Regions from separate parts of the Homo sapiens genome. Here region 2 is linked to region 1. Evidence: fine-mapped expression QTL. Tissue or cell type: unexposed skin. Region 1 holds a variant in brackets; the other region holds the start of a gene. All regions are shown on one strand. Distances are from middle to middle.

The links. PIP is the estimated chance that this variant, and not a neighbour inherited with it, causes the effect.
Region 2: EDARADD starts here. The variant in region 1 is fine-mapped to the expression of EDARADD in unexposed skin (GTEx, PIP above 0.99).

Annotation. Positions count from the first base shown.
Region 1 is chr1:236,479,952-236,482,711 of GRCh38, forward strand. EDARADD (EDAR associated via death domain) reads left to right here. Exons shown (of 6, transcript NM_145861.4): 6 at 2,316-2,760. The coding sequence ends at 2,698. Among named protein-coding and RNA genes, the nearest start is that of LGALS8, 43 kb to the right of the region's middle. The variant C/G (reference allele first, on the strand shown) is at 1,098.
Region 2 is chr1:236,392,858-236,395,486 of GRCh38, forward strand. EDARADD (EDAR associated via death domain) reads left to right here and starts at 1,429. Exons shown (of 6, transcript NM_145861.4): 1 at 1,429-1,648. The coding sequence starts at 1,588. RefSeq lists an enhancer at 2,051-2,100 and a silencer at 2,301-2,629.

The DNA.
Region 1 (2,760 bases):
AGGAGAATTGCTTGAGCCCAGGAGTTCCAGGTTATGATGAGCTATGACTGTGCCACCGCACTCCAGCCAGGGTAACAGAGTGGGACTGTCTCAAAAAACAAAACAAAATCCCTAATATAATCTCAGTGTGCCTTTTAAGTATGCCATATATATATATATATATATATATATATATATATATATATCACATTTTCTTTATCCACTCATTGATTTTCATGTAGTTCTAATCGTAGAATTCATACATTCTTTCTATCTTCCATCTTTCACATAACATCACAAACATTTTCTAGGTTGCCATATTGTCTTCATAGTTACTTAAATAATATTCCATCAAGTAGCACAATCATTTATTTCACTAGTCCTCTAACTGTAGACATTTTGGTTGTTTTTGAAACTTAATAATGTAAATAACACCGTGATAACAATGTTTATGTAAATTCATATTTTGGATTATCTCCTTAGGGTGGATTCCCAGAAGTCACATTAGTAGGTCAAAGAGTATGAGCCTATTTTCAAGGCTCTTGTTTTATTACCTTTTAATTTCCACTTGCCTCAATATTGCTGGTTTGCTCCCTTATGATCACCAGAGTTACTCCGTCGGTCCAAATTCTTTACCTTCCGAAACTGGGAAGGCCATGACTCAATGTTATATATATAGTAAAGGCTACTATAACCTTCCCCAGAATTTTCCAAGCCAGTGGTCTCTAAAGTGACCTTTGGCTGTTAAAATCTGAATTCAGAGGGTTCATGAGACTCAGTGTTGTTGTAGAATTTAAGCTCCTTAATTTGCCACGTTGTTTAGACACCACTTAATACTTTATTGCAAATGACTTGTCAACGCCTCTCACCTACAAACTTCATCCTCCTACAAATATACCTCCTGCTAATCAAATGAGGCTACAGTTGAGTCTTTAAGTTTCAGTAGAAAGATGGCCCTTCCTCTGGGGTAGGCGCATGCTCTTCATGCTGAAGCTCAGCTGAAAAGCCTCCTGCTGAGTTTTCTGCCTCTTTCCCTCCCACTGCACACACCCCAGGGTGTTGGCGCCACTTCAAAGGGAGCCTGTGGATGAAGAAAACACAGGTAAAGGCAGAGGGCT[C/G]ATAAGGGGGCCATAAATTTAAAAAGTTAAGATTCCTGGCACTATCAACTCTCACTTGTTTTCAAATATGCATATGGAGTGGATATTCCAGTTTTCATGTCTGTGTTGTTGTTTTTAAAAAAAGACCTTTCAAAGAACTGTGCATTTTTTACAGGCTGACAGGCTGTGTTTGGTGTTAAACTGTCAGGGCTGACTGGTCACTTGGAAAGGGCAAGGGCTGAGGTGCATGCAAGTGTCGGCTGGTTACTCACAGACACAGCAGCCCCTTTTACCCCGGAGAGAGTTCTGTTTGCTGGAGCCCTTATTCTGGCCAGCAGTGTCACAAATGCACACTGTAAGACATAGACAGTCTTGGAAAGAAAGGGAAACTGGCTTTAAAAATTCTTACTCCTTCTAGCAAAGCAATTCATCTTTGGCTATAAAGAATAACACAGCCAGGTGCGGTGGCTCATGCTTGTAATCCCAGCACTTTGGGAGGTCAAGGTGGGCAGATCACTTGAGTCTAGGAGTTCAAGACCAGCCTGGGAAACATGGTGAAACCCCACCTCTACCAAAAAAAAAAAAAAGAAAGAAAGAAAAGATTAGCCAGGTTTGGTGGTACGTGCCTGTAGTCCCAGGTACTCGGGAAGCTGAGGTGGGAGGATCGCTTGAGCCTGGAGGGCGGAGGTTGCAGTGAGCCGAGATCATGCCACTGCACTCCAGCCTGGGCAACAGAGTGACACCCTGTATCAAAAAAAAAAAAAAAAAAGAACAGTAACACATTATTAGAAATGAGCATTCTGAGGCCAGGCACGGTGGCTCATGCCTATAATCGCAGCACTTTGGGAGGCCGAGGCGGGTGGATCACAAGGTCAGGAGATCGAGACCATCCTGGCTAACACGGTGAAACCCCGTCTTTACTAAAAACACAAAAAATTAGCCGGGTGCAGTGGCGGGTGCCTATAGTCCCAGCTACTCAGGAGGCTGAGGCAGGAGAATGGCGTGAACCCCTGGGAGGCGGAGCTTGCAGTGAGCCGAGATAGTGCCACTGCACTCCAGCCTGGGCGAAAGAGCGAGACTCCATCTCAAAAAAAAAAAAAAAAAGAAAGAAACGAGCATTCTGAAATAGTCTTCCATATGATGCTTTTGACAATTCAGCAGGAAAATAAAGGATGTAAGAAATGAATGCATATGTTAGGCCTCTTGTTGACCTGTGGACTAAATTGTTTCTCCCTGCAGAGATCAGCAAGGACAACTCCTGCAAAGAAAACTGTACTTGTTCCTCCTGCTTGCTCCGGGCCCCCACCATAAGTGACTTGCTCAATGATCAGGACTTACTAGACGTGATCAGGATAAAGCTGGATCCGTGTCACCCAACGGTGAAAAACTGGAGGAATTTTGCAAGCAAATGGGGGATGTCCTATGACGAATTGTGCTTCCTGGAGCAGAGGCCACAGAGCCCCACCTTGGAGTTCTTGCTCCGGAACAGTCAGAGGACGGTGGGCCAGCTGATGGAGCTCTGCAGGCTCTACCACAGGGCCGACGTGGAGAAGGTTCTGCGCAGGTGGGTGGACGAGGAGTGGCCCAAGCGGGAGCGTGGAGACCCCTCCAGGCACTTCTAGAGCTCTTCTTCTTCCTTCATTGGCCTCTCCGGATGTTGAAACAACCACAGGTCAAGAAGGAA
Region 2 (2,629 bases), 87 kb before region 1:
CGGGGTTTCACCATGTTGGGCAGTCTGATCTCGAACTTCTGACTTCAAGCGATCCACCCACCTTGGCCTCCCAAAGTGCTGGGATCCAGCTAATATTTAAATTATTTTGTAGAGACTGGGTCTCAAAATGTTGCATAGGCTGGTCTTGAACTCCTTGCCTCAAGCAATCCTGCCACCTTGGCCTCCGAAAGTGCTGAAATTGCATGTGTGAGCCACCATGCCCAGCCAGTATTTTCACATAAACATTATTTCAGTGAATTCTCACAATCCTGCAGACACTTGCAGACTCAGTTTTGGTTTCTTACTTAATGTAACACAACCTTAGAGTGACAGGTCCATCAGCGAAATCCAGCATATTTGACTCCATGATTACCAAATGCACTATCTCCATTTATTGGAAAAGGAAAATTGGAGGTCACTCAAAGAGCAGTGAAGTTATGGAAATATGAAATTTTTCACATGACTCTGAGATTGAGTGTTTGGGTACTATCGGGAAATGTTAAAAATGTCCATTTTCTTTTCTTTCTTTCTTTCTTTTTTTTTTTTTTTTTTTTTTGAGACAGAGTCTCACTCTGTCGCCCAGGCTGGAGTGCCGTGGTGCAATCTCAGCTTACTGCAACCTCCACCTCCCAGGTTCAAGCGATTCTTTTGCCTCAGCTTCCTGAGTGGCTGGGAGTACAGGCATGTGCCACCAATCCAGCTAAGTTTTTTGTATTTTTAGTAGCGGTGGGGTTTCATCACATTGGCCAGGCTGGCCTCGAACTCCTGACCTCAAATAATCCACCTGCCTTGGGCTCCCAAAGTGCTGGGGTTACAGGTGTGAGCCACTGCACCCAGCCCAAAAATGTCTATTTTCAATAGTGGTTTAAAACACTCTTGGACAGCAAAAGAAATAAAAGTTGAAGGACATTGTGACAGCAAATTGATTGTATGGGAACTCTGGTGAATGCGAATCATTTTTAAATTACTTTTTTTGTAAAGTGCAAAACAACAATAGCACCCATTTGCGTCATACTTTATAGTTCGCAAAGCACATGGGAAAAATAAAGGTAATGATGGGGATCGTTGCAATTCATAGGAAAGGAGGCACGAGGAAATGAAAATGAAAGGGAGTAATAACTACGTAACTAGTCAATCTTCCTTAAAAAAAAAAACCCTTAAAATATACCACCATCTTCTATTTGATATAATGCAGAATGGGAATGATAAAAACATGAATTACATTTCAGAGTTTCAAAAAGCAAACCAGCTTTATAGCAATGCTTGAGGTTGGGCTGCTAACAAGCTCACTCAACTAGTGTTTCCTGACGGCCAACGTCAGAATAATTCCATCTCCATGAGAAGTACAGAAAGAACCACAAACCAAACCTCCAAATTGATTCTAAGATAAAATACCCTTAAAAAAAATTTCCCTTCCTATCCGAAGGCAGACCAAGAGGAAGTTTATCCTCCCACCTACAAATTCCCCAGAGAGCTTTCATCTAGAAGGTTTGACTCTGGCCAGACAACCAGCGAGCATCTTCTCGCAATCTGTTGCTTCTTCCATGGCAAACTCCAGAGAATTAAGAAGCCAAACTCAACATCGCCATGGGCCTCAGGACGACTAAACAGATGGGGAGAGGCACTAAAGCTCCTGGTCACCAAGAGGGTATGTAGGCATTTGCTGTCTTCCTGGATTTCTCAGAGCTGAGTTTTTAGCCAGAGGTTGCTTATTTACGATAATTCTTGGATATATTATACACTAAATACTATTATTATCTTTTTCGACCCGACTTTTATCTTTCTGTTCTTATGTGTGAAGGCAGAGAAAGATTATTTAGAGCTCTTCAAAGATTCCTATTTAATTTAAAATGCCTGTCGCCTTCCTATAATAGGCTTATGATGGATGATAGCTTTAGTTAAAATGTAGCAATCTTAAATATATTCTTCATAACCAATTCCAACGTGTTCTCACTTAAGTAATGGGTATAAAACCCCACTTAAGCGTAATATTTTAAATATTTGAAGCCATCTTTTCTGAGAGAACCCGAAGCTGTTTTTTCTAGAGAAGCTGTGAGTGTGTATTGGGCGACTTCTGTTCACTCCTTTTCTGCAGCACTCACCCTGGAGGTCATGTAGTAACTAATGCCAAAGAAAAATCAAAATAGAAAGTACCAGCGTGTGCCATCATGCAGCGGCAGAGCCTGCTTAAAGATCAGGAAATTTGTCTAAATATCAGATCGCCGGCGGGCATCTCAGCCCAGGCCTGTGTAAGGGGAGTTCTGGTGTCTCAGCTGAGGGCGTGAGTAGGGAGCCAGGAAAGCGACCCGCGACTGCAGCCGTTTCTTAAGGCCAGTCCTTCGCTCGCAGTCTGTCCCGGGCGGCAGTCGTGTCAGCCCCCCGCTAGGACCCGCCCAGGGGGACGTGGGTACCGGGCAGGACGCGCGCTCTGGGCGCTGGGGACGCCCGGGACACTCGGGGCCCCGCCTTGCGTCCCAGCCCCGGGTCGCGGCACCCCGGCTCCCGCCCCGCGCCTCTGGAGGGAGGTACCGAGGGACGCGCAGCGAAGGGGCTTTGCTAATTGCCAAAGCAGGAAGTGAGCTCGTGGAAGAAGCGAAGGAGGAGAAGAAGAAGGGAGGGGAAGGCGGAG